Linked DNA regions of Homo sapiens. The protein of the gene in region 1 purifies or fractionates together with the protein of each later gene. This does not show direct contact. Each region holds a gene or a part of one and is shown on either strand. Other genes may lie near its edges. The genes, in order: MAFK, CEP44, CCDC6 and DCAF4.

What was found.
Region 2: the proteins of MAFK (region 1) and CEP44 purify together in Homo sapiens (affinity purification with mass spectrometry; one large-scale study listed by BioGRID and IntAct). This does not show direct contact.
Region 3: the proteins of MAFK (region 1) and CCDC6 purify together in Homo sapiens (affinity purification with mass spectrometry; one large-scale study listed by BioGRID and IntAct). This does not show direct contact.
Region 4: the proteins of MAFK (region 1) and DCAF4 purify together in Homo sapiens (co-immunoprecipitation; one large-scale study listed by IntAct). This does not show direct contact.

Annotation. Positions count from the first base shown.
Region 1 is NC_000007.14:1,534,079-1,542,591, reverse strand, and holds part of MAFK (transcription factor MafK), read right to left. Parts: exon of another isoform or gene 7,712-8,513; intron 5,146-7,711; exon of another isoform or gene 4,135-5,145; intron 3,444-4,134; 5' UTR 3,400-3,443; coding exon 3,364-3,399; intron 2,652-3,363; coding exon 2,217-2,651; 3' UTR 1-2,216. UniProt on the Homo sapiens protein: Since they lack a putative transactivation domain, the small Mafs behave as transcriptional repressors when they dimerize among themselves.
Region 2 is NC_000004.12:174,304,411-174,312,923, forward strand, and holds part of CEP44 (centrosomal protein of 44 kDa), read left to right. Parts: intron 1-4,278; coding exon 4,279-4,449; intron 4,450-5,439; coding exon 5,440-5,646; intron 5,647-6,372; coding exon 6,373-6,448; intron 6,449-8,513. UniProt on the Homo sapiens protein: Centriole-enriched microtubule-binding protein involved in centriole biogenesis. In collaboration with CEP295 and POC1B, is required for the centriole-to-centrosome conversion by ensuring the formation of bona fide centriole wall.
Region 3 is NC_000010.11:59,812,557-59,816,056, reverse strand, and holds part of CCDC6 (coiled-coil domain-containing protein 6), read left to right. Parts: intron 1-1,301; coding exon 1,302-1,405; intron 1,406-3,261; coding exon 3,262-3,422; intron 3,423-3,500.
Region 4 is NC_000014.9:72,950,837-72,959,349, reverse strand, and holds part of DCAF4 (DDB1- and CUL4-associated factor 4), read right to left. Parts: intron 7,553-8,513; coding exon 7,473-7,552; intron 5,190-7,472; coding exon of another isoform or gene 5,187-5,189; coding exon 5,088-5,186; intron 4,965-5,087; coding exon 4,867-4,964; intron 3,828-4,866; coding exon 3,654-3,827; intron 2,965-3,653; coding exon 2,850-2,964; intron 739-2,849; coding exon 545-738; 3' UTR 1-544. UniProt on the Homo sapiens protein: May function as a substrate receptor for CUL4-DDB1 E3 ubiquitin-protein ligase complex.

The DNA.
Region 1 (8,513 bases):
TGGGCGGTGACAGCGGCTCCGTCCACCCTGGGGACCAGGGAGTCCCTTCTCCAGCAAAGCACTGCAGGCCAAGGGCAGGTAGAAGCCCACGGCCCACAAGACGTGGACACCAAGAACCCCAAGACGGGACAGAACCGGCCACCCGCTGCGGCCTGTCCTGCGGGGCCCAGCTGCCTGGTACAGTCCGTGGGGAGATGAAGGGGGACGGCGGGCAGCCCGGGCCTCCGCTTTGCTCCCAACTCCCACCTGTGCCCGTGCCCCCGGCTCTGCTCTGATAGATTTACAGTATCAAACTGGAAAAGAAAGATTGTTACGAAAAATCTGTAGATAAACTGTGAATATAATTTTATATCTCTATATATTTTCTGTTTCTCTCTTTAAATATCCCCCTGGTCCTTATGACATCCAATATGGATTACCTACCACGGCCACGGGGGCAACGGCTGTTTGGGAACACGCAGGCCTTTGCTCTGTAGGGACCCAGTGGTCCTGGCGGGCCTGCAGCTTCCCACTCAACTTCTAACAGTAGACACAGAACCAAGTCGCAGCCCCGGGGCTGTCTGTCCTCTGCCCTCCCAGCGTGGCTGGCACCCGCCTGGGCTCTGTAGCTGGTGGGGGCTGTTACTGGGTGGGCAGGGGCAGCCGAGAAGGAGCCAGGGCCCCAGGCACCACCTTGCAGGTCTTATGTGGCGGCCCCCGGCCGGCGGCTCACATTCCGCCAGCTCCCCCAGGCAGGGGCTCCGCAACCCCCGCGGCTCTCGCTGCAGAGACCCCAGTCACAGGAGGGACCCTCAAGGCGGCTCTCCAGGAAAAGGAAGCCCAAGGTGGAGTGCCAAGCCCACTGGTGCCTCAGTGCTCTTGGAAGGAGGAGCAGGCAAAGGCTCCGGGTGAGGACTGAGTGCTGAGGCCAGCCACACCTGCAGCCCGTGGCTGTGCTCCTGGGGGTGTGCGCGCAGGAGCCACGTCCACGAAGCTCTCCTGGACTGGTGCCTGCTGCCTCCCCACCCGCCGCGCCCTCTGGAGTGCCAGGCTCACTCCTGAGCTCTTCTACAAGCCAGCTGCATCCTGGTCCTGCCCCTCAAGGCTTTCCACCTGCTCTCGCACACGGCTCCCGCCTCCTCCCACCACTCCACGCAACGTCCTCCTCCTTCCACCTCCACATCCATGTCCACCAACATCCCCCAGGCTGCACCCCCTCTCCCTAGACTGCAGCAGCCCTTCCCCTCGCCAGGCCCCCAAAAGACCTCCTCGTTCCCCCTGCACTGACCACAGTTGGTGAGAAGTAGCTCCAGGACACACAGCCTGAGTCCTGCTCACCGTCAAATGATGGGGCGCTCCTGCCTGTGTCCGCTGAGATCCGGGACGGCCTGTGGGGTCGGTGTCTGGGGGGCCGGATCCCGTGGGCAGGGGCTTCTGCGCTGTGCTGCACGACCTCCTCGGGTCACCAGAGCACAGGGGAGACCTCACGACGTGTGAGCCACTCTCTCTGCCATGTGTGCCCACAGGCCCTCCCCCAGTGAACACCAGCAAGCTGCACCCCCTCAGCCCTGCTGCTTTGATGGCAGGCGTGCGTGCACACACACAGACACCACCCCACGCAGGCGACCTCCCACACCGTGCCCACTCACGCAGGCCCCTGCTAAGGCAGACGCGGATCACGGGCACTGCAACGGGACAGCTGGAAGGACGGAGCTGCCGACACACCATCCATGCTCCTCCCCGGGGACTGCGGAGTCGGTCAGGGCAGTGAGGGGCTCCCGCACCGGCTGGGAGGCCGTGGCAGGACAGGTGTCGAAGGCTGCTTACAGCAGGAGTGGAAAACAAGCCCCATGCTAGACCTGACCACAGGGGCCTGACTCCTGGGGCCGTGTCTTCCGGCAGCCCCCACAGAGGACGCGGAACTTCCCGAGGGCCTTTCCATTATATGTCCCGACTCCCACGGGTGCAAGATACCAATTCCCACACACAGACACATCCTGCGGGGAGCAGGTGGCGGGCGTGAGTGTGTCTGTGGACCGGCGTGCAGCTCTGGGCCCACGGGAGCCCACTCTTCACCCTGCAATACAGTCTCTTCCTGGTGTGAGCTGCCTGCGCCCGAGGGGCCTGCGCTTGGACTCGGATGTCGAGAGTCTGCATCCCAGTGACAGGTACGAGGGGTGTGCCCCCACCCGCCTGCCCGCCGCCCGCCGCCCGCCACCCCCCGCCCCCGGCCGGCACTAGGATGCAGCCGAGAAGGGCACGGAGGTGGAGGAGAGCTCGGTGGACTTGACGATGGTGATGACGCTGGTGGTGGCCACCTTGGAGGGCGCCACAGGTCCCCGGGCCACGGTGCGCGCGAAGGTCTGCAGCGCCTCGTACTTGGAGCGCAGGGCGTCCAGCTCCAGCCGCATGCTGCTGTTCTCACGCGCCAGCTTCTCCACCTCCTGCTGCAGCTCCACGCGCTGCCGCTCCAGCTCCTCCTTCTGCGTCACCCGCTTGATGCGGCAGCTGGCCGCGTAGCCGCGGTTCTTGAGTGTGCGCCGACGCTGCTTCAGGCGGGTCACCTCCTCCTTGGTGAGACCCCGCAGGTGCTGGTTCAGCTCCCGCACCGACATGGACACCAGCTCATCATCGCTGAGCACCGGGGCGTTCTCGCCCGCCTCCTTCTTGACCTGGGGGGCCACAGTGCGGGGTCAGCGGCGGGAGAACGTGGGGTGTCTGCCTGGGACCGACACTGGGGTGGCCAGGAACCCAGCGGTGCCCCTGCACGCCTGCGCTCTCAGGGCTGGCCTTCGCCATCCGCACCAGGGACCACAGGACACTGTGCACGCAGGCAGCCCATGTGACAGCTGTGGCCCCACAGGACCCTTTCTGAACGGGAAAAGCCAGTGGTGACATCGGTCACTCCTGGTTACCGACAGCCTCAGAGCCCATGAGGACCCAGAGTGCATGGGTCCTGCTGCTGGGACTGAGCCGGCCCACAGGCACACGCCATTGTGGAGGCGGCAAGCGCCAGGCACAGGTGGGCTCGGGCCTTGGGAGCTGGAGCATCGCGTTCACCAGAGGCCACGCTGGCCACGCTGCCCACGCCTGGAGCCAGGGGATGAGCTCATGCAGTAGCGCCCGGCGGACACACAGCCCAGGCGGGAAGGCAGCAGACCCTGCCACGCCCTCAGCCTGGGAGTCATCGCCTGGAACCACAGTCCCCGATCCTGACTCCACCTCTCCTGTGAACATCCCTCGGCCACAGCAGCCCCCCTCCTCCTGGCAACAGGGAGGCCTCCATCACAGGCTCAGGACGGCCCTGGGATAGCAGGGGCTGTCGGGCCGGGGGCCTTTCCCACGCCTGTGCTTGAGACGGGGCCTGCTTGGAACCAGCCTTACCTTTAATGCCTTATTCGGTTTGGGATTAGTCGTCATAACCCGGGCACGGTCACCAGGACAGAGCTCCCTGGAACTCGTAGCTGGAAAACATGGACAAGCAGAGAAGCCAGCACAGGTCAGGGCCGGCAGCGCCGGACAGGGTGCCCACCTCCCATGCAGGGATGCTTCTCAGCCCGGGGTGGACAGTCACAGCACCATGAAAACAAGACGGGGCACCATCCGGGCCCAGCCCGTCCTGAGGGGCTTCCCAGGGGGTGAGGCATCCTGGCCCGGCCTCTGTCCCTGCCTGAGGGTTCAGGGAAAGGTCTGGCTGCACCTCACACTCTAGCACACTCCACAGAGCGGCTGGGACCCCACCCCAGGGCCTGGCAGCCAGGTGCGGCCCCCTGCTGCCCTGCAGACCTGGGCTGCAGCCGCCGGCACTGTGGGGTGACCAGCAGGCGCCGGCAGTGGCTGCTTCCTGTTCTGACTCTCCCTGAGGTCAGAGAAGACGTCTGCACCTGCACAGCACAAGGTGCCCCGTACCGAGGACCAAAGTGACTGGTGGCAAAACCTCCCTCCCTCAAGACAGCTGTGCCGGCCCCGAGGAGTGTGGGGCCCCGCTGGACAGCGACCCTACACTGGCAAAGGCTCCGGTGCTCCGGACCCAGCCTGGATCCCCGAGAGGGGGCCTCTGGGGAGCCCCTGACATCGCCATCCCCCACGGTGGGCCTGGGTGGAGGCCCAGCCGCCCTCCCGCCCCGCCCTCCCCACAGGCCACGGGACACCTACCACGGCCCTGGCCGCTGCGGCTGTGACATCACCACCTCCACCTAAGCTGCCCCCGAGCGAGGACCCTGCGGCCCAAGGGGGTGTGGGGTTCCTGAGGGGCGGCAGGTCCGGGGGCCGCAGCCAGAGACCAGGGAGGTGGGGGAGCCGCCGCCCTGCCGAGCATTTGACCGTCTGGCGGGAGTCGTCCCCGCCGCCGCCCCCGCCGTCCTCACGTCTGCATTGTGTCACACATTCTAATCATTCATGAAAAACCCAGCCAAAGCATCCCCGGCATGAGCCCTCCGATAGTTGCCATGGCGACCTTGGGACCGAGCCAGCCCCCACGGTTGTCATGGAAACCGAGAAGCCCAAACGCGATCCTGACTTCAGGTCAGGTTGCACAGACATCACGAGGCCGGCAGGCAGTCAACAAACCCATTTGCACCCGGCGGCCGGGACGGGCGGGCAGAAGGCGCCGGGCAGCTCGCGGGACAGGGGTTCACAGCACCCACTCCCATACCCCAAATACCAGACACAGGTTCCCACAGGAACATCAGAGCAGCACACGGCGGTGGGGGGTGTCCTTGGTCAGCACCTCCACTGGACATGGGCATCATGGGGGCGGGTGACCGCATCCCGTCCTCCCTGCCAGCCCAGGACCCTCCCCACACCCTGGGCCAGGGAGCCCTCGGGCCCAAATCCCTCCACCCTCCAGCCCTGCCTCCGATGGGGGCCCCACCCCCGCAACCCACAAACCCCCACAACAAGAGGGCCGCACAGGTGAGACAGGGTCCTGCGCCAGGCTGCCGAGTCCGCTGCCCCTGCCAAGGCCAGCTGATCTCAGGGCGCTGACGTAGATGGCACAGGATGGCACCAGCCGGTCCCGGGGACGGCCAGGTGGGCTCCAGGCTCCTTCGCACCACGTCCTGGGGTGAGGGTGACAGTGGAGAGGCTGGGGCCCAGCTGCCTCCGCCACCGTGGGGACCTGCAAATGCCGGCGGCTGGGAGCACCATGAGAAACTTTTCCATGTCAGAGGGAGGGGCCGCGGGCACCGCTTCCAGCTCCACTGCGAGCACGTCAGTGCACAGGCCGGCCACGACATAGCTATGCGGTGAGTCACCAGATGTTTACAGAGCCGCGCGCATTCCCACACACCCGGGCCTCCCACCCAGCAAGGACCCGCTCCTGGGCCCCCGGGCCCACTGCCCGCCGTGGCAGCACAGCCGGGCGGAAAAGGAAGGTCCGGGGGACAGGACCGTCTGGCCAGACCCACGGTGACGTGTGGGGCTCGGCCAGATGCCAGGGGCAGAGTTCAGCGTGGGGATCTTTCCACTAAAAAGATGCCTCCGCGATGCCCTGTGACACTGCGGAGGCACACGGTAGCCGGGGGCGCCCCAGGAGGGGTGGCTGACTACTTCCAGGAGGTCAAGGTTGCCAGGGCTACTGAAGCACGCCTGTGCCCCGCTCCAACCCCAGTACTTCGAGGCACACCTGCACTGGGGCCCTCTGAAGAATGAGGACCTGGCGGACGCAGGGCTCCCAGGCGGCCCCCACGCTGTGCTCGCAAGCCTGCCCCCCACCTCCTTGGGCAGGTCACGACTCTGCTCTGCCGAGGAAGCCTGGACCAGCCACGCGCCTGGAGAGACGACGCAGCGGGACGGCCCAGCCAAGCAGCAAAGCTTCTCTCAGGAACCCAGCACGGGATGGGATGGTGCTGGCGCCTCCCTCTCCCCACCATGCACAGAATAAATCCAAGTAGCCTTAACCTAATGTCGCTTTAAACATCAGAGGCAAGAAAGATGACAGCTTGCTTTTGGAAGGACATTCAGAGAAGAGTTTTGTATGCACAAAAAAAGTTTGTAAAGCAACTGATCTAAAAATGACGACTGCCCTAAATGGGGTTTTGTGAACTGTCCGACCTCACATGGCCTCCAGGGCCGCCAGAGCACATGTAGAAAGCGCTCCCACCCCAGGGCCAGAGACGCAGCCTTAGGGTGTCATCCAGGGGGAAAGCGTGCCTGGGGTCGCAGAGACGCCCGTGCACTACCCCGGGCCCAAGGCAGGGGCTACTGCATTAGCACCTGGTCAGCACTGCAGCCAAGCTCCCCTCCAGCAGCCCCCGAGGAACGACGTCCTCGCATTGTGTCTTACGCCCAGCAGCTAACAAAACACCAGCATCGCCACGCACAAGCACCCGACACCCCGAGCTCCTCTGAGTTTCGGTGGTCACCAGAGAAGTGCAGTGTTCAGCGCCACAGCGGGGGCCTGGGTGGGCGGGTCTGAGTTTCCGCTGTGGGGCCCCAGCAGCCGACGTAAGTAAGGGTGCAGCGCTCACGCCCCACGTCCCGGGAGCAGCGCCGGGCAGCAAAGTTCTCCGGCACCACCTATAACTTGGAACAGCTCTCAGGTAACTGGTTTTCGGATGGAAGAGGCAGGGTTTTCAACCCAAGGCCAGACACCTCGACGTGACGCAGAACTAAACAAGGCTCAGCGGGGGCATCACTTCCTCTCAAGGAAAAGGAACTGCCAGCAGCCTCAGACAGAGGCAATTCCTGCGGCTGCAGCTGGGGATGAGTGACGGAGCCAGGACGCCGGGCGCCCCTTTCCAGGATCCAGACTGAGGGCCTGGGCTCCATAAAGCGCAGGGCAGGGCGGCTCCGCCCAGGAAGGCACCTTGCAGAGGGTGAGGATCAGAGCCCTGGGCTCCCCCCGGCAGGGCAGGCAGCCCAGGGTCAGTCGTCCAGAACTGTGCTTTCAGGAGCAGGTGATCCCCAGGCAGCCACCTCAGCTTCTGGAGGATCATGTTTTCCCTTTTAATTTTCATTTTAGAGACAAGGTGTCACTCTGTCACCCAGGCTGGAGTGCAGTGGTGAAATCACAGCTCACTGCAGACCTCCTGAGCTCAAGCGATCCTCCTGCCTCAGCCTCCCGAGCAGCTGGGACTACGGGTGGGCACCCCCACACCCAGAGAATTTTAAACTTTTTTGTAGAGACAGGGTCTCACCATGTTGCCTAGGCTGGTCTCGAGCTCCTGGACTCAAGTGATCTTCCTGCCTCAGTCTCCCAAAGTGCTGGGATTACAGGTATGAGCCACCATGCCCGGCCATTTTTAACTTTTTAAGTCCCAGCAAATACTCACTGGTCACCCATGGGCCTGACCCTGCTCAGTGGGGGGCTGGCAGCCTTGGCACCTCTTGCTGTGCTGGCACAAGCTGAGAAGGACCTGCTTTGGGGTCCAGGAGGGAACATTTTCTCCACCAAGTTGGGACTGGGCACAGTGGCTCTTGCCTGTAATAGCAACGCCTCCGGAGGCCGAATGCTCGAGCCCAGTAGTTTCAGGCCAGCCTGGGCAACATAACAAGGCCCCATCTCTACAAAAAAAAAAAAAAAAAGAATTTTAAATAGCCAGTTGTGATGGCACATATGTGCCTATGGTCCCGGCTACTCGGGAGGCTGAGGTGGGAGGATTGCTTGAGCCTCGAAGTCGAGATTGCAGTGAGCTGTGATCACACCACTGCACTCCAGCAGCCTGAGTGACAGGGCAAGACCTTATCTTTTAGGAAAAAAAAAAAGAGAGAGTGCAAAAGTGAGTTGAGCAGCTGACGGCTGGATGACCCCTCTGAACGGTCCCGGCTGTGGATGCCCATAGAGAAACGGGGATTTCAGCTTTGGGGCTCTGATTCTTCCCAGATGAGAGGACGCATCGGGGCTGCCGCTCGCTCTACGAGGCCAGCATGGGGGCTCTGGATGGGTCACTTGTTCTTGCCCAAGGGGTGAATGATGACACAGACTCCATGCCCCACCCCCTCAGCTGCCCAGCCAGTCTGACCAAGACGGAGTGGCCCTTCCACTTCTATTCTCCGCGGGTCTCCGAGGATGTGGGATGCGGGAGAGGGAGGAGGGGCAGGAGGAAGACCAGGAACGGAGGACGGGAGCTCTGTGCGAGAGACACGGGTTCAGAAACCCAGCAGCACAGCAGCAAGCGCCCTCCCGCCCCCCGACCAGTGACTCCCACGGCAGGTGCAATCCACAAAACCAGAGGCCACCCAAGGTGTACCCGCCTCTCCCAGGAGCCTTTCTGCCAGAGACCCCAAGCCGGGTGCCCTCCACACTGGGCCGCAAGGGTAGGTGGGGCCGCTGTGGCACTGGTACCCAGTGGGTGCCTGTCAAACAGGTGTCAACCGACTAATTGCAGCCCAGCTGGTCCCAGAGACCAGCCAGACACCCTTCCTACTGAGGATGAGGTCCTACACTGCGAGGGCCCCCACTGTCCGGCTGTCCCGGACACAGCCCCACTAAGCATGCGGGAGGCACCCCACTTGGCACCCCGCAGCCCGGCCCATACCAGCCAGCAGCCTGGCCCTGGCTGGCTGCCCTCCAGCAAGCCATGACTGTCGGC
Region 2 (8,513 bases), on another chromosome or scaffold:
TCTAATTAATCCAATATACAGTTTTCACTTTTCTGATTGGCACCTGATGAACATTCTAGTTAGATATTGGAGTTCATTGATTTTTAACAGTGCATGCCATATATTTTTGGGCAGTATGCCTGAAGTTATAACAATAGGATAGAAATATAAAATTAAATACGTGTTCTCTTTATATTTCTAATTTCTAATTCTGCCGGATTTCCTAAACAGAAGAGTAGTGATTTAGGAAGATTATCTTATGCAGTTATCTACATTTGCTCTTAATTGTGTTCTGGTCTTCCTAAAACATGGGAACATATGAAGAGCCTACATTAGCAGTAGTGATAGGTTATAATGATTCATTTATGTACATTATATTTCTGTAACCAAGTATGAATTATCCAATAATTGGTAGTCCCTACACGTAGAATCTGGTTTTCAGTTAATATTTTGAATATTTTCTCTTTCTTGAAAGATAATTTTTCTGCCATTATCTGCTTTGAGCAGCTGTGGCAAATTGAATCTAATGCACTTAGAGCTACAGTGTTTCTATCACTAAGGGAGACTTAAGCTAAAATATTATTTATTAATATATTTTCAGCTGTCTTCCAGCTGGAGAAGACTCTGATTGAATGATAGAATATCAGATGAATTATCAATGGTGTAATTAAGTAAAGGATGTGAATACTTTCTGACTGAAGTATAATCTAGAGTATTATTTCTGCCCTAATCCAAAATACATGAGTTATGTAAACAGAATCTATTTTAAAAATTTATTCTTGGGTCTAGCACAGTAGCTCATGCCTGTAATCCCAGCACTTTGGGAGGCCAAGGCAGGTGGATCACCTAAAGTCAGGAGTTTGAGACCAGCCTGACCAGCATGGCGAAACCCCATTTCTACTAAAAATACAAAAATTAGCTAGGCGTGGTAGCTGGTGCCTGTAACCCCAGCTACTTGAGAGACTGAGGCAGGAGAATCGCTTGAACCCTGGAGGCAGAGGTTCCAGTGAGCCGAGATTGTACTACTGCAGTCCAGGCTGGCTGACAGAGCGAGACTCCATCTCAAAAAAATATGTTTATTCCTTTATACCTTAAAAAAGTGAAATTTTATTATAAGAAAATGTTCTTATGCCACTTCTTTTTAATGTACCTGTTTTGCTCTAGGTAATGAAGACAATATAAAGAATGATACAAAGCCGCCATTTTTGAATAAGTGCATGTAGTTTTTGTACACTTGCATCTCTAACTCATCTAACTCTTGTTAGTTTTATTTATGATTTTCTAACTGTTAAATGACTTATATCTTGTATTCTTCCCCAACTAGAAGGAACATATATGAACAGGGATTTTCTTATACTGATTTTTTGTACCTTCATTTTGCTTAGCACAGGATTAGGAACACTGTGAGCACTTATTAATTATTTATTGATATAATGTGCTTTTCAATGTTCTATTTCAGTATGAGAGTTGAGGGGACAGTGTAAATTGTCCTAGCCAAGAAAAATGTAAACTTCAAAACATTAGACTTATTTTTAATTTTCTTAAAGCAAAGTTTTCTTTGTTATCTATTAAAATTTATACCAGATCTTTATCAGAAATTTGAATAAGTATTAAAAGTTCTCAGATTTAGAAAAGAGTCTACAAGTACATTTCTTTGTTTACAAGCAAAAGTTGAGTCAATATTAAAGCAAATTGTCTCCTATCCCAGTGCCTTATATAGTATGCCTATTTGCGCTTCTGAGTCACATATGTTTTTATAGTGTGTATGCAAACTGTAGAATAGGAAGCAGGTAGAGGATTTCTAGGTAAATGCATACCGTGACCTAATGCTTTTTTTGTCAGGACTTCTTCGTTGTCATTATTAGGTTTGAATTGTTAGCTGAAGGTCTAATAAATTGCAGTTTGTTTAACAGAAAAATTGTAATGAGCCCTACTCATAGAGCCAGTTTTTGATTATTTATAAGTGAATTATTTGGCAATCTTTTTTAAAAATAACTTTTTATTATGGAACATTTCAAACATTTACAAACATACCCATCATCCAGTTTCAGCAATTTATCAACTCTTTGCTAATCTTGTTTTGTCTTTATTTTAAATCAAATCTCAGACATAATTTAATAAATATTTCAGCGCTTGTCCTAAAATGTAAGAATTGTTTTAAAAGTCATAACCCCAATTTTATCATCACACATAAATTATTGGTAATGTTAGTAATGGTAATATTTTGATATATATATTATATGTGATAATTTAAACTTTTTTTAATTTTTAAAGATTGGTGTTCCTTTTGCAAAATTGCTGTATGTTTAAAATAATTGTAGGAGGATCTTCTCAGCCCAAAAGCTTCTTAAGCTGATAAGCAACTTCAGCAAAGTCTTGAGATACAAAATCAATGTGCAAAAATTGCTAGCAATCTTATCTACCAACAACAGTCAAGCTGAGAACCAAATCACAAACAAACTCCCATTCAAAATTGCCACAAAAAGAATAAAATACCTAGGAATCTAGCTAACAAGGGAGGCAAAAGATCTCTACAAGCAAAACTATAAACCATTGCTCAAAGAAATCAGAGATGACACAAACAAATGGAAAAACATTCCATGCTCATGGATAGGAAGAATCAATATTGTTAAAATGACTGTACTGCCCAAAGCAATTTATAGATTCAATGCTACTCCCATTAAACTACCATTGACAGTCTTCAGAGAACTAAAGAAAACTACTTTAAAATTTATATGAAACCAAAAAAGACCCAAATAGCCAAGGCAATCCTAAGGAGAAAGAACAAAGCTGGAGGGATCATGCTACCCAACTTCAAACTATACTACAGGGCTACAGTAACCAAAACATCATGGTACTAGTACCAGAACAGACACATAGACCAATGGAAGAGAATAGAGAACCCAGAAATAAGACCACACACCTGCAACTATCAGATCTTCAACAAACCTGATGAAAACAAGCAATGGGGAAAGGATTCCCTAGTCAGTAAATGGTGCTTTGATAACTGGGTAGCCATATGCAGAAGATTGAAACTAGACCCTTTCCTTACACCATACACAAAAATCAACTCAAGATGGATTAGAGACTTAAATGTAAAACCCAAAACTATAAAAACCCTGGAAGACAACCTAGGCAGTACCATTCAGGACATAGGTGTCGGCAATGATTTCATGACGAAGACGCCAAAGGCAATTCCAACAAAAGCAAAAGTTGATAAATGGGATCTAATTGAACTAAAGAGCTTCTACACAGCAAAAGAAACTATCAGCAAAGTAAACAGACACCCTCCGGAGTGGGAGAAAATTTTTGCAAACTTGTATCTGACAAAGGCCTAATATCTAGCATCCATAAAGAACTTAAACAAATTTACAAGAAAAAAACAACCTAATTAAAAAGTGGACAAAGGATATGAACATCTACTTCTGAAGAGAAGGTATACATGCAGCCAATAATCACATGAAAAAAACTCAACATCACTGATCATTAGAAAAATGCAAATCATAACCACAATGAGATACCATGTCACGCTTCTCAGAATGACTATTATTAAAAAGTCTAAAAATAACAGATGCTCGTGAGTTTGTGGAAGAAAAGGAACATTTATACACTGTTGGTGGGAGTGTAAGTTAGTTCAACCACCGTGGAAGACAGTGTGGCAATTCCTCAAAGACCTAAAGACCATTTGACCCAGCAGTCCCGTTACTTGGTATATACTTAAGGGAATATAAATTGTTCTGTTGTAAAGATGCATGCATATGTTCATTGCAGCACTATTCACAATAGCAAAGACATGGAATCAAGCTAAATACAATAGCAAAGACATGGAATCAACCTAAATGCCCATCAATGATAGAGCAGATAAAGAAGATGTGGTACATACACACTATGGAATACTCTGTAGCCGTAAAAAATAATGGGATCATGTCCTTTGCAGAGACATGGATGGAGCTGGAGGCCCTTATCCTTAGCATATTAATGCAGAAACAGAAAACCAAATACCACTTGTTCTCACTTGTAAGTGGGAGCTAAATGATGAGATCACATGGACACATAGAGGGAAACAAAACACATTGGAGCCTTTCAGAGGGTGGAGGGTAGGAGGAGGTTCAGGAAAAATAACCAATGGGTACTAGGCTTAATACCTGGGTGATGAAATAATCTGCACAACAAACCCCCATGGCACACATTTACTTGTGTAACAAACCTGCACATGGACCCCTGAACTTAAAAGTTAAAAAATAAATAATTGTGGGAGGAAAACATTGAAGTGTTTCTTACATATTTTTCTCTATGCAGAAGAAAGCTGTGGTGATTCGTCACTTGTATAATGAAGATAATGTTGACATTTCTGAGGATACATTAAGTCCAATAACAGATGTTAATGAAGCAGTTGATGTGTCTGACTTAAATGCTACTGAAATAAAGATGCCTGAAGTAAAGGTTCCTGAAATCAAGGCTGAGCAACAGGTAACAACTTTGGACTTTTTAAATAGATGCCAGTATTTTTTACTTAAATATGTGTAATTATTTCAGCCTCTAAACTTTGGAATATTTCTAGCCTTTTGAATTATTAATCATGACATTTTATCTATGTTACAATTACTGAAGTGTCAATAAGTCTTACTAAAATAATTCAACAAATATTTGCTGCATATGTGTAGGGTGCTGGGCTAAGTGTTGGGGTGATGCAAAGTAGAATAAGATATGGTACTTGGCTTTAAGGAATCTACAATTTAGTGAGACATAGCGATATGCTACTTTGCATAGTGGAGGTTCTCTACCACCTATTTTCTTTATTGGTGAATGGAAAAGATTGGCACTTTATTGCCTATTCATTTTCCTTTCTGGGTCCCTGCTGTTATTTTCTGTCTCTCTTAAAAAACCATTTCTATTACTCTTAATTGCCACAGACCCCAATATGTCTGATCTCTACTGTTTCTGCTAAGACTTCTTTTTCTGTGTTTCTATGTCTTGTGATTTCTATATATCTCAGTATATCAATATACAGTTGGCACTTACAAAAACTACCAGATGGCCATTGGACCTACTTCCTGTTATATGGCAAACCGAACAATCTCAATGCACTAAGTGTTGTTTTTGGTCATTTCCTCTTAGCTTTGTGCTAAGCGTTGTTTCAAGAAGCTAGTTAATAATAGTTTTATTTTACTAGCTGGTATTAAGAGAATCATGCAAATTAACTCATTATCAGAAGAATCATATGAAATAGATACTGCTCTTATCTCTTTTTTTTTAATGAGGAAATGGAGGCATCAAGATCATAAATCTCAGAACTGGTTTAAGTGGCCAAGTAGTCTCCATCCAGAGATAGCTCTCTTAACTCTCAAGCAGGACGGTCTCTCCTAACTGTTGAGATAACGCTGTGGAAGTGAGAATACATTAATTTTAAAGAAATTTCAGTTTGTTTAATTTTATTTTTAATCTCTCTAACCTTTTTAGGATGTAAATGTTAATCCTGAGATTACTGCACTACAAACTATGCTTGCTGAATGCCAAGAAAATCTTAAGAAACTGACTTCGATAGAGAAAAGGTTAGACTGTTTGGAACAAAAAATGAAAGGAAAAGTGATGGTAGATGAAAACACCTGGACTAATCTTCTTAGTCGTGTCACTCTTCTTGAAACAGAAATGCTTTTGTCTAAAAAGGTATTTTCCTCCTTTAACATTTATAAAATATCTCAGATATAACAAAGTTTTTTTTTGATTGTTATATGTGTATTTTTTTGGAAATGCTAAATATGAGAATATTTGAATAATGAGAAAATGTCTAGTTAGAATGAAGTCCTGTTTAAATATAGCCTGTATGTTGTTGTGGCTGTTGTTTCTCTCTTCATTGAATAAGATAATCTGAAAAACTTGTCAGTTGAGCTTTTACAGATGTTAATAATGCTTGAAGAATTTAAAATGAGGTAAGAATATGATAGATATGAAAAGCTTAAAATTATTTTATATCTTTTAATAGTACAAATAACCTATTTTCATAGGGTAGAAAAGATACAGAAGATATAGGTAACTCTTCCCATCTTTTTTTCACTCATTTACTTCAATCATATTGTGAATTTCATAGAATAGTTACCAGATTTACCATTGCCTTATCAAATCTGAGAAATTTGTTTTTTTTTACTCAGGATTTCAATTTCTGGTCTGTCTTTCCTTCCTAGAAGGTGAAGTCAAGTAGCTTGCTATCTGCTTCCATATTTAAAACATTTCTTATATGTAGGAATATGCAGTATATGTATTGCTTTAATAAAAAATTAAAAATATTTAAACATTTATCATGCTACCTTTATATTTTATGCTCAGCATTAAGAATATAAAATGAGAGGGTTTTTCTTTTTATTTCATTCTAAATATTTAACTGTGTTATTCCAGAATGATGAATTTATAGAGTTTAATGAAGTTAGTGAAGACTACGCTTCTTGTAGTGACATGGACCTTCTGAATCCTCGTAAGTTTGTAAATACTATGAGAATTGGTATGATGAGTTTTCAGAAAAATGATTGTTATAGTAATTTTAATATTCTTAAGCTTTATTGTTTAGAAATTGCAAAGCTCCTAGAACAAAGAACATAATGAACCTACAGACTACTAAAGCCAAGAATTGCTTAACTAACCAGCCTACTTATTTCACATAACATAGTGGGTGAATAAATTTCAGTGTACAAAATTGAAAATTTTTAGAGATATTTTACTGTTTTAATCATTCGAGAATAATCAAGTGCTCTAGGATATTAATGTTGGCCTCCAAGTTTTTAAATTTAAGCTTAGGTAGGTAGTAGCTTTCTCATATGTAAATAATAATATGTAAGAGAAGAAAACACATTTGTCAGTATCTATAAAGTATTGCAAACTTCTTCCATGTGAATAGTTCACTGATAATGATAAAATGGGAAAGATCTGATATTAGGATAGGTCTTTTCCTGGTCACTTTACTAGGCTACTGATATTTTGCTTAGTGTGACTGAGCAGCAAGGGTAAGATTTCTGTTTTTCAGTGACAGCTTTGTTTTGATTGTTATGTATTTTTAAAAGATCTAAATTTTGTGCCATATCTATGATTAAATCATAGCTATAGAAGAGATGTTTTGTCCAATTGAGAATTCATCGTTAAGTTAAATTTTTAATATCTGTGGATTGTTAACGTTATAAAATCTTTCAGCTCTACTATATGTGTAACAATAAAATAATATATATTCTAGCACTAACAGTGTGCCTGGCACGATTCTAACTACTATATTAACTCATTTAATTCTTGAAGTAACCATTGCAAGATAAGTACTATTTTTATATTTTACAGTTGAGGAAACTGAAGTACAGCAAAATTAAGTAACTACAGCAAAGGTCACACAGTTATTGAATTGTAGATCAAATTTGAATCCAGGCAACTGATCTGAAGTTTTTTCTTGACTGCTGCATATTTGGAGCACATATCAATATCATTGCACAAAGAACAATTTCAGTGATTAGCTTGTTAAGTATAATTATTTGAGATGCTATTTAAGGCAACTAAATTTATTATAGGCTGCAGATTTCAGATTTGGTAAAATGTTGCCTGTTTTATTTATCCATTCATATATCTATTCAACAAATGTTAATGCTTGAGTATAAGATCCTTGAGAGCAAAAACTTTATCTTATGGTCTGCCTGTCTAGCACACAGAAAGTATGTCGGTGCTTTTATCACCAGTATTTGCATATAGTAGAGTTTAAATATTTATTCACTGAAAGAATATTGAATGCTTGTGATTTGCAAAACATTGCCTTTTTCAAGTTTGATTTTGCATGCTCAGGCTTATTTTTTTTTAATGACATGATTATAGAATATACCTTTAACCTATTTAGAAAACACATGGCTAAGTTTTTTTTTTTTAATTTTTTAATTTTTTTGAGATAAGTGTGGTCTTACTCTGCTGCTCAGGCTGGAGTGCAGTGGTGCAATCATAGCTCACTGCAGTCTCCTAGATGTTAACTCCTTGGCTTAAAGTGATCCTCCTTTCTCAGCCTCCTGAGTAGCTGGGACTACAGGTACGTGCCACCACACCTGGATAATTTTTTATTTATTTACATACTGTTTTTAGTAAAACAAGGTCTTGCTATGTTGCTCAGGCTGGTCTTGAACTCCTGGGCTCAAGCAATCCTCCCATCTCTGCTTCTCAAAGTACTGGGATTACAGGTGTGAGTTAACATGTCCGGGTTCACATAGCTAAATTTCAACAACTGTGCCAGGACTGAAAGTAATTAACAGGCCTCTATCTGAAATGGATTACAGATTATGATTAGGTTGAATACCTGGTCTCATAGAGTTTATGATCTGATCTAGATTAATTAAAAGACTCAAGTTTATAAAGACTTACACATTATACCTTATACATGCTACTTGGAAATAGGGTTTGATTTCATTTGAATGCAGAGAGCAATAATTTACTACTCTGGGTTTAGGATCATATTAAATCAGGAATAGTTTTTGTGAGGTTCCAGATTTGTTTTGCCTTTATCAGGAATACAGTGTTCCATG
Region 3 (3,500 bases), on another chromosome or scaffold:
TGTTGGTAGTACTAACCATCTCGGGAGGTTGAGATTGTTGCTTCTTAAGACTAAGCTACGAAGAGTTTCAGAAAGGGGAATGTCATTTGGCTGTAAAAGTAAAACCGCACTTTGGATATTATTTTCTGATGTTTGATTGCTTTAAAAGACTACATTTTATTCATGTTTTTGGTTCTGCCTTATGTATACACACGGGATCTTTGGATGAGGAGCTTGCCTCTGTGACCCACTAAGGAAATGTGGAATCTATTAACATCTTTGTGCAATCAAGAATAATTTGTTGACTCAACCATTGAAAGGTGAATTGCCACTGGTTGAAGAAATAACATGGAAGCAGTAGCATAGGCTCTTTGCATTAAGAAAAAATTTTTAATTATTTAATATGTCAAGTACGGAGAATGATAGAATACATGTCCTCTACTCATTGCTATGAAACCTCTTGCACTTTCAGTCTCTCTTACCAGCCCTCTTTTTCTACATATCTGTTTCATACTGTTTCACAAGTATATAATTGTTTCATTTACTGTCTTGACCCCCACTAAAAGGAAGATCCATGAGGGCAGAAATTCCTGACTCCTTGATTCACTGCTATGCCCCCATTATCCAGTCATTGTTCTCAGTATTTATTACATATTGCTCAATATTGATTAATTGAATTTTCCCATGTTTGCTTCATTGAAATAGAACACTGTTGGGGTTCCCTCCGCAACTGCAAAGCCTCCCCCAAATCAAATTTTCTTCCTTCCCTAAATCCTTAGAGTAACCTAGAGTAACCAGTATTGTGGATTTGGTGTTTATCATATTTTGTGCGTGTTTTTATATCTTAGTACATGTTTATTTATCTCCATTAGCCAGTATGTAGAGTGTTTGGGAGCTTTTAAGAGTTATTTATATGAATAGTAATATAACCTTTCTGACTTACTGTAAGGGACAAGCCCGGAAGAATAACTGTAAGCCCAGAACTGTAAGGGACAAGCCCAGAAAAGTCCTGATATGACTAGTACACCGAACTCCCCTAAAGACCTCTCTAAGGAGGACTTTCCACTTGCCTTGAATAAATGCTGAAACAAGCAATGCATTTCATGTACCAGACAACAATTAAGCATTAACATCCAAGAATGAACCTATCTAGTTTTTTTCAAAGTTTAAGAACTAGATGCACTTAATATGTTTGTGCCAGAAAATTGGCCACATGTTTGCAGTATTCTCCAAGAAAAGGGGTCCTAATTGTTCAATCAAAAAATGTATTAACAAAGTATAAGTGGCCTGACACTTTGGTAACACTTTTTTCCTTCCTTTAGTTGAGACGGGAGAAGATTGACCTTGAAAATACATTGGAACAAGAACAAGAAGCACTAGTTAATCGCCTCTGGAAAAGGATGGATAAGCTTGAAGCTGAAAAGCGGTTTGTTTAGTCTTGCTGTTCAGTATGGGTGTGTGTGTGTGTGTGTGTGTGTTGCTGCTCTGGGTGTGACTGAGGAATAGCAGTAGGACACCTTAATTCTTTGGTGATGCACATCATTTTAATTGGCCAAAGGAAAAAAAATGTTGAAAGCCTTCTGAACTATTCCCATGTTGGGCACCTCTTTATTCTTTGCTATCATACTGTCCCAGTAGAATTTCTTTTCATTTGGTGTTACAAGGCTATGAGAGAATTAGTCATGCTGCTATTGTTCACCTTTAAAGTATTTTCAAGAATGGTTGCAATTTCAACTTTCCACCTTATTGAACTGGCTTCCTCAGTTGTTTTGTAAAGTACATAGGGTATACTGCGTACTATTATTTATACATCTCTGGAATTTACTTCTTTAGGAAGCCTGAGATTTTAATAATAAAATTGTTTTAAAACCTACTGTAAAGAAATACCTTTACATACTTAAGGCTAGGATTCTTTATATAAAATGTATGTACTTGGAAGTGGAATGTCACTCAACAGCAAACATTTCTTAAACCTCTTTGTGCAAGATAGTTAAGCCCTTATTTTCAAGCACTGAGTACTTTGGAGTGTGTGAGGCAGGGCTTGTAAGAATGGGAAGAAGATTCTGTATGTGGAATGTGTGTACGGGTGTAAAAAGTGAGTTTCTTAAAAATGGTCATTAATCTACTTCACCAAGATCTTTTGTTTGCTACCCAGAGCCCTTCCTCCTTAAGTATTTGGTTTGGATGCATATTTGTAATTGTTTTGAGTTCATGTCTACATTTGCAAAATACAGGCATACCACATAGCTTTAAGAAAAGTGAAAATTAGAGCTATATCTATAAGAAATACTTGTTATAATCATATCCACTATGCTTTACTGATAGGTATTATTGTAGCAGTACTAATAAGTTGAATTACGAAAAGTCATTTTATGTAATAAATGCAGGGACCATTATAATATTTAACACACTAGTTTTCTCAAGGGTAGACCTGGATGGAGGTAACTCAGTTTGCTCCTGGACAAACTCAAAGGTACAAAGCAAAAACAAAACAAAAACCCCAGCAGCTATGGAAAGGGATTTAGAGATCTGCTGCCAAAGGAAGACTTTGTAAAAGGCAGTTGGAGGTTTTACATGTATTAGTGCCAAATTATTGGGTTGAACAGTATGGAAGTTTGCATTTTGTAGGTCAGAGCTATTGAATATCAGTATTTTATATCCTTCAACATAAAAATAATTGGTAAAGAAGGTGGCACTACTAATTATTAACCTAACAATTTTGGTTTTGTTTTTAACTTTTTACCTTTGCTGTGGCCAAAAGCAAAGGGCCGCTAGTCCAGTTTGCCATGCCCTTGCAATTAGTTTTGCAGGAGGGAATTTTAGAAGTTGAGTCTCTGTGTTACTTTACCCTCCAAGGAGATTCATAGTAGCTTAGAAGCTTCAATCAAAAGCCGTAAGAAAATGGAATTTCCTCAGCATCTTCATGCACTAAACCCAAGAAGTTGAACATTGAGTCAGCAGGTATTTCTAAGTGCATACTGTATTCCAGGCATAATTATCAGATCCTGTTGTTAAATAAAGACTTTTCAGTATTGTTTAATTTAAAACATTTAATAGTCATTTAAAAGGAAAAAGGGAGATTAGAATCAGCTCTGCCCTTTGAAGTGAGACACCACGTAAGGGCAGAAGTTTGATGTAAAATGGGCAGAGGAATTAAGCAACCCTGTGAATTCTGGCAGTAAACAGGAGTTTGCTTTTAAAACAAACCTGCCAGCTAGTATGTTGTTTTGTCTTTTCAAGGAAAACTGTTAGTCATTGTTGGAATTTTTCTTTTCAATGAAGAATCCTGCAGGAAAAATTAGACCAGCCCGTCTCTGCTCCACCATCGCCTAGAGATATCTCCATGGAGATTGATTCTCCAGAAAATATGATGCGTCACATCAGGTTTTTAAAGAATGAAGTGGAACGGCTGAAGAAGCAACTGAGAGCTGCTCAGTTACAGCGTACGTAGCCTCTGGTTTCACTAGTTTCATGCCTGTAGAATTAATAACTTTACCAAATATAGGGTATTACCAACATTT
Region 4 (8,513 bases), on another chromosome or scaffold:
TGAGTTTGAGAAGGCCAAGTTTAAGGATTCCAAACTCCAGCCTTCAATATTTCTGCAGAAACTTAGAGAAGTAACCTCCCCGTCCTCTCCGCTGGCTTCCCCAAGTACAGATGCAGGATGCAGGTCTTTCTTCCTGCTACCCAGGCACCGAGGACTCAAACCATCTCACCGTCTCATCACTGGGCTTCTTCAATGGGCTCTTGGAGGAAGAAGCTTTTCGTTTTTGCCAATCTTCAGTCCTTAGAAAAGTCCTTTTTGTTAAGAAAAGGCAGGGAGGGTTAACTAAGTTCTAAGAATTCAATAAGAAAAGGAAAGAGGTACCTTTTATGAAAAGGACTTCCAAGCTCTCTCAGCCAGCAATTTAACTCAAATAACTTTCCTGAGCATCTCCACACGGAACATTCAGCACTTCTCTCCTAGCAGCCAGAGGATGGGATCTGTGTACACTGAGTGTCACTTAAAACACCCTCATTAGATGCAGTAAAAAGTTACGCTTTACTCCCGTAAGTCAAATCCACATGGCTCTGGGCTGTGCCCTGCAGAATTAGCTGTAGGAGTAACAGTAAAGGTCCTGCCCGACAGCCATGAGCAGCCCCGGCGCGCCCCGGGAGCCCCCCAGCCGCGACGAGAAGGCCACACTGGGAATGTCGGCCTTGGAGGCAGGGTACGGGGAGGGTATGGTTCTCAGTAGGCGGGCATCGTGGAGGCTCCAGATTCTCGTGTAGCAGTCCTGGCCCACTAGGAAAGAGGAGAGACACATGGCAGGCTAGTGAGAGAATGCAAAGGAAAACTTACCTACATGTGGACATGGCTTCCCAAGATTCCTCAGGGCTGTGATTTCATGTGAGCCAAAACACAAACTCATTAACGGACAGTATTTCTACGGATAACCCAAGTCGCCCTGTTGTGCTAGAACAATGACAAGATGCCCTGGTTGGCTGTGTGATGCCATGAATGGCTCGGAGACATCCTGGCTAATGTCTGGGTATTCTGCTGCTCTTGATGTCACGGAACGTTCAAGTGCGAGTGTGGCCCACCTGGTCTAGGTGACATGCAACTGATTTCCCCCATTTTTTAGGGACAGGGTCTTGCTCTGTCGCCCGGGCTGGAGTGCAGTGGTGTGATCAGGGCTCACTGCAGCCTTGAACTCCTGGGCCCAAGCCATCCTTCTGCCTCAGCCTCCTGAGTTAACTGGGACTACAAGTGTGTGCCGCCATGCCTAATTTTTTTTTTTTTTGAGATAGGGTCTTGCTGTGTTGCCCCAGCTGGTCTTAAACTCCTGGCCTCAAGCTCCCTAAGTGCTGGAATTATAGCTACCACACCTGGCCTGATCTTTTCATGTTATAGTAAAAGATCTGTCAAAGTCATTACATCCTGGGGATGGGCTAGGTTGACAACTCTCCCCACAGCTCTTTCTGGTTTAATGCTTCAGTTCCTAGGACCGGTTTAAGTCTTCAGGGCTCCAGTTCTGAGGACTGTGACACACAACAGCATGGGTTACAGCAGCCCAGAAACATGATATACACTACTGGAGACCTTCAGCAGGAGAAGAGGACAGGCCTTGGGCAGTCATGGATTTCACATTTGTGATTCTGATCACTTGTGTGGCTCTAAGACCAGAAGTGCTATCTTGGCTGAAGCTGAATCCCGGCTGCAGTTTATTACTGCAGCTGGTAACTACCTGCATCTGCCTCTCAGCAAGGCTGAGCTCTCTCTATCATCCAGCTCACAAGAGCTCTTCTGTGATAAAAACAGGTGAAAAATCGACTTAAAAAGGAGGCGAAGTCCTGGTGTTGATGAGAATAGTAAATAAGTCTATGAATGTCCTAACAAAGTAATGCTTCCTAGCCACAAAAATGTTCCATGGGGTATAAGCCCTTTCTATAGGAATACCAGTAGAGGTGACAATTCTTGAAGACTGAGAACACATTCTGCAGTGTCAGCAGCTACTATTTCAGTGTGAAAGCATTGAGCCTGCACACTGTCTGATTACGCTATAGCCACCATCATCTGTAATCAACTGGTAACTCCCTTCCAGGGGGCTTAGTGGCCAGATAGCTGCTCCTAATCTGCAGATCATGGAGCCACAGGGATGGTAGTAAAGGGGCCACAAATCTTTTTTATTTATTTATTTATTTTGAGACGGAGTCTCGCTCTGTTGCCAGGCTGGAGTGCAGTGGCGTGATATCGGCTCACTGCAACCTCCGACTTCCTGGTCCAAGCAATTCTCCTGCTTCTGACTTCCGAGTAGCTGAGAGATTACAGGCAGGTGCCACCATGCCCAGTTAATTTTTGTATTTTAGTAGAGATGGGGTTTCACCATGTTGGCCAGGATGGTCTCAATCTCCTGACCTCGTGATCCACCCTCCTTGGCCTCCCAAAGTGTTGGGATTACGGGCGTGAGCCACCGCGCCGGGCCGGGGCCAAGAATCTTTACAATGACCATAACTTCTTTTCTCAGCATCCTCTGGTGGAAATGTGAGTAGAGACAACAGGGAGCCCAAGTTTTTGGATAAGATAGTTGCGTGGTGGAATAATGCTGGCCTGATGAAATCCACTCAAACTCCAAACCCAGGCTCCCCAGGACCTCCCCACCTGCCTGTTTCTGAAGTGACGTTTGCCCACTGACATGGGATGAGGCTGTCCACCTGGTGGACATTTATTTACACTCCTGATTACTAATATAATCTAATTCTACTTCCCTCCTAGTCTCCCCACCCAGCTGTCCACACTCCCCTTGATTCAGTTCTGTTTTGGGGTAACTTTTCCCTCTGCTGCTGAAGTTGCTGGGATCGCCCCTGAGAGACAGTATTTGATGGGGTGGAACTTCCCCTTCCTTCCTCAAGTACCTGCCACCAGGATTCCTTCTTCCTCGTGCACATGCAGGGGCAGGTAGGCGTACTCATTCACGTGGCCTTCGTACTGCCTTACGCACTTCGTGGTCCTCAGGTCCCACAGCTTGATCTGTGGAAAAAGCACCAGGGGCCATCAGGGAGGGGCCAGGGGGTACCATGGTGGTCCCCAAGTGCAAAGCCAGGAAGGCAAGGTGGTCTCCAGTGGCCTGTGCAGGTCATGAAGATCTCCATCTCGAATTCTTGAGCCTTGTTGTTCATCAAAAGCATGTAACCAGGCCGGGCACGGTGGCTCATGCCTGTAATCCCAGCACTATGGGAGGCCAAGGTGGGCAGATCATGAGGTCAGGAGTTCGAGACCAGCCTGACCAACATGGTGAAACCCCATCTCTACTAAAAATACAAAAATTAGCCGGGCGCAGTGGCGGGTACCTGTAATCCCAGCTACTCAGGAGGCTGAGGCAGGAGAATCGCTTGAACCTGAGAGACAGAGGTTGCAGTAAGCCAAGATAGTACCACTGCACTCCAGCCCGGGCGACAGAGCAAGACTCCATCTCAAAAAAAAAAAAAAAAAAAAAAAAAAGGACATAACCAGAGAATCCTTTTCACTTTTGTTTACGTCAGATTAGGCTCATATGGTCAACGAAGCAGTCCCCATGCAGGGCCTACAAATCACTTGGTCTTCAGCGAAATTCCCCTGCCTGGGGTCTTGGTGTGAGGACCTCTTCAGCAGAACCCTTTCACCTGGCAGGGCACTGGGCCACGAGACCCTGTGGCCTGAGAAAGTCCATGATCCCCTACCTTTCCAGCCATGTCTGAAGCCATCAGGTATTGCTCATCTTGGAGGATCCGCACAGAGGTCACTGCTGAATCATGAAACAGGCGGGTGGCCTTCCATCCCTTGCCTTGATTTCCACAACGCAGATCAATGGCAAAGATTTCCCCAGAGCGGCAGCCATTAAACAGCAGAGGAGCCTGTGGAAAGAGGGACTGCTCAGTGCCTGGCTATCATGACATCCCTCTGAGGCTGGGCAGGGCAGGTCCTCCTGATACAACCCCTCTTCCAGCCTCTGGGTCAGACGGTGTGATTAGACACGTGCTGGTCAGGGTTTGGGTCTCAATGGAGTTGGAAGGGAGGATGATTCCTTGTTAGTGGCTAGAAGAACCAGACCCCATGTGTCCTCCTCATGGGTAGCACGGAGGTCCTAGGAGCTGCCCCCCACCCCCCTGCACTGTCCCGTTTGGCCTTTCTCTCTGAAGTCCCAGAGATAGCATTCCATCTCCACCAAAAGCAGGTTAGTGGGTTCATTCACTTTTAAGGGAAGACGGCATTTTCTAGAGAAAAGTCTGTGAAATATAGTAATGACCACAATTTTTTTTTTTTTTTGAGACAGAGTCTTGCTCTGTTGCCCAGGCTGGAGTGCAGTGGTGTGATCTTGGCTCACTGCAACCTCCGCCTCCCGGGTTCAGGCAATTCTCCTCAGTCTCTCGAGCAGCTGGGATTACAGGCGCCCAGCACTATGCCTGGCTAACTTTCGTATTTTTAGTAGAGAAGGGGTTTCACCATCTTGGCTAGGCTGGTTTTGAACTCCTGACCTTGTGATCCACCCATCTTGGCCTCCCAAAGTGTTGGGATTACAGCCATTCATTAGCCACTGTACCTGGCCTGATTTTTTAAACATATAAAATATATAACCTGGGAGCTGTGAAGAATTGGTGTTTGGCTTATACATTTTAAAAATGGTTTGTCCTACTGGGTAAATCCAAGTACCCAAGAACTGCTCACAATACCTTTCCATGAGAGGTTGTGTAGAGCAACTCAGGCCAGCCTTTCTGGATCAACCAACTTTCACTCGGCTCAGACACCCTTACAAAGGAACCCACTGATCCTTTCTGATGCTCTTTCTCCCCTGTCAAAGAGTACTAGATGGCACACAGAGGAGTCCAATTTCAATCTGGCCAAATTTCTACATGGGGCAAACTTTTATATTCTGCCTGTCCCAATCCAACCAACCATGAGAGCAAACTGCTGGGCCAAGACATCACTGTTGGTCCCAAAGGACTGCCGGTGTCCCGTCACCACGTTGGTCAACAGGACCCGCCGAGACAAGCCTGGCGGAGACAGAGATGGGCTGGTAAGATTATGTCACATGTAGTCTGGGGAGAGGGACAACTACATGGGGTTTTAAGGCCTGTTAAGGCCTCTTCTCTGGGCACCTGGGGAGCCAGGCTCACCTGTACTGAAGCAGTTATTTGCTTGGATATTCAGGGACCAGGCACAGGACCAGGCACCAGGGATCCGGAAACTGCAGAGCATGCCAGGCCGGTCTATTCCTGCTAAGGGGATAGGAGAATGTAAAGTGTGGCTGCCTTCTAGGCAGGCCAGGGACCACTGGGTTCGGAAAACATCCAAATATGCCCATAGCTGCTCAGAGGGTCTATACCTTTGGCCCCATTCTGGGTTTTGTGGTTGCAAGAGAGACTCAGCTGGGATGCCTGGCTCACAAGTGGTTATTCCGAAAATGCATCTTTGTTAACGTTCCCAGTAGTCGTGTTTACAGTACGAATAGTACTGATATCAGGGAGGTAGTATACTGTTGGAGGTAAGGTGGCTCCGATCCTCGATCACCTACCAGCTATGTGATCTCAGGCAAGTGTGTGTGTATATACACACACACACACACACACACACACACACACACACACACACACACAAATAAATAAATAAATAAACTATATATATATATATATATATATATATATATTTTTTTTTTTTTTTTTTTTTTTTAAGACAGGGTCTTGTTCTTTTGCCCAGTCTGGAGTGCAGTGGCGTGATCATGGCTCAATGCATCCTCAACCTCCCAGGCTCAAGGAATCCTCCCATCTCAGCCTCCCAAGTAGCTGGGATCACAGGTGTGAGCCACCACACATGGCTAATTATTTATTTTTTGTAGAGATTGGAGTCTTGCTATGTTGCTCAGGCTGGTCTTGAACTCCTGGGCTCAAACGATTATCCTGCCTTGGCCTCCCAAAGTGTTGAGATTACAGGCATGAGCCACTGTGCTTCGAAAAAATATTTTTTAAAATAAACTTTTGCATTGATAGAACGTACAGATTGTAAGGATACAGTTCAGTGAGTTATCACAAACTAAATATAGCCATGTACCCACCACCCAGGTTAAGAAATAAAACAATCCATGCCAGGCGTGGTGGCTCACGCCTGTAATCCCAGCACTTTAGGAGGCCGAAGCGGGTGGATCACCTGAGGTCGGGAGTTCGAGACCAGCCTGACCAACATGGAGAATCCCATCTCTACTAAAAATACAAAAATCAGCCGGGTGTGGTGGTACATGCCTGTAATCCTGGCTACTTGGGAGGCTGAGGCAGGAGAATCGCTTGAGCCCCAGAGGCGGAGGTTGCGGTGAACTGAGATCGTGTCATTGCACTCCAGCCTGGGCAACAAGAGTGAAACTCCATCTCAAAAAAAAAAAAAAAAAAAAAAAAAGGCCGGGCATTGTGGCTCACACCTGTAATCCCAGCACTTTGGGAGGCCGAGGCAGGTGGATCACGAGGTCAGGAGTTCGAGACCAGCCTAACCAACATGGTGAAATCCCGTCTCTACTAAAAATACAAAAATTAGCCGGGCGTGGTGGTGTGCGCCTGTGATCTCAGCTACTTGGGAGGCTGAGGCAGGAGCATTGCTTGAACCTGGGAGGCGGAGGTTGTGGTGAGCTGAGATCGTGCCATTGCACTCCAGCCTGGGCAATAAGAGCAAAACTCCGTCTCAAAAAAAAAAAAAAAAAAAAGACAAGACAAGACATAAAACAATCCAGTACCCCAGAGGCCTCCCTCACATCCCTTTCCCAATTACTACCTCCCCAAAGGGTACTGTGAGCCTGACCTCCAACACTAAAAATTACTTTTGTAAGACAAATTCTGAAACTGTCTGCCTCAGTTTCCTTATCTGTAAAATGGTGGTAAGACACACTCCTGCCTCATAAGCTTGCTGTGCAATGAAATACCAGGCACTGGGCTAAATGTGCATGATCTCACCTAATTCTCCACGGATGTGGACTGAGAAGGCCCTGTCCACTTTAGAGAGGTTCAACATTCCATTCAAGTTGGCAAGGGGCAGAGCTGGGATTCGTGCCAGGTCTGCCTGAAGCCCACACTCTTAAGAGGCCTCTCACCCTGGTCTTATTGATCCTAATTTTCTGATAGACTGAAATGTAATATCCAGAATGCTGTCAGGAAGGAGGAGTCAAATTGCCTTAACGTAGGCAGACTGTTAAGTATCCCTGATAGCACCTGAGGTGCTTTGGACCTTCAGAGGTGTTTTCTGAATGATGTGCACGGGCGTCCGAATCTGTTCTGAGCTCACGCTGGTTTACATGCGTGTTAAGTCTGCTCTGGCTGCTGAAATGACTGAAATGGCCCAAGATGGGTAAAAAGGGGCAGATGCTGTAAAAAAAACACATGCTTCTGGTACTAACCCTGGGACAGGCTTAGGGAATCCTCCCACAGTGCCTCTGCAGCGGCCCCATACTTCTCTCTAAGCCACCCCCACACAGCTCTCGGGAGACAGAGGACAGATTTCTTTAAAGGAGGAGAACCCTGTACCTGGGTGACTATTGACGAACAGTGATGCTGGGAGCAGGGTGGCACAGCCTGGAGTCTCTGCGAGTCCCATGAGGCATAGCCTGGAAAAAGCTGTTAAGGACAGTTAGGCACAAGGCTCCCCTCTGGGAGGAGGCATGGACATTTACCCTTCAGAAAGTCATACGGCACACAACCTAGGCCAGAGTAACCCCCACCGTCCAGATTCAACATGCGTTTACACTGCCCACATTTACCTTCAGATGTTTTTTTTTTGTTTGTTTGTTTTTGAGACGGAGTTTCGCTCTTGTTGCCCAGGCTGGGGTGCAATGGCGCGATCTCGGCTTACCGCAACCTCTGCCTCCCAGGTTCAAGCGATTCTCCTGCCTCGGCTTCCTGAGTAGCTGGGATTACAGGCATGTGCCACCACGCCCGGGTAATTTTGTATTTTTAGTAGAGACGGGGTTTCTCCAAGTTGGTCAGACTCGTCTCGAACACCCGACCTCACGTGATCCGCCCGCCTCGGCCTCCCAAAGTGCTGGGATTATAGGGGTGAGCCATCGTGACTGGCCAGCTTCAGATGTTTTTTAAAGGGAAAAACAAATCAGATATAGTTAAAAGCTGGGTGTGGTGGCTCCTGCCTATGTAATCCCAGCACTTTGGGAAGCTGAGGCAGGAGGATCACTCGAGTCCAGGAGTTCGAGACCAGCCTGGGAAACACAGCAAAACCTTGTCTCTACAAAAAATACAAAAACTAGCTGGGCGTGGTGGTGTGTGCCTGTAGTACCAGCTCCTTGGGAGGCTGAGGTGGGAGGATTGCTTGAGCCTTGGAAGTCAAGGCTGCGGTGAGCTGTGATCATGTGACCGCACTCCAGCCTGGGTGACAGAGTAAGACCATGTCTCAAAAATAAAATACTATTAAAAAGCCCAAAAAGCCCTCTCTGATCCCTCCCTAGTCCAATTCTCCCTTCTCCTCTACTCAGAGAGAACTGCTCTTCTCAAATTGGTGTAAGTTCTTCTAAGCCATGCTGTATTTCCACTACATATATTTGTCAATAAATAACA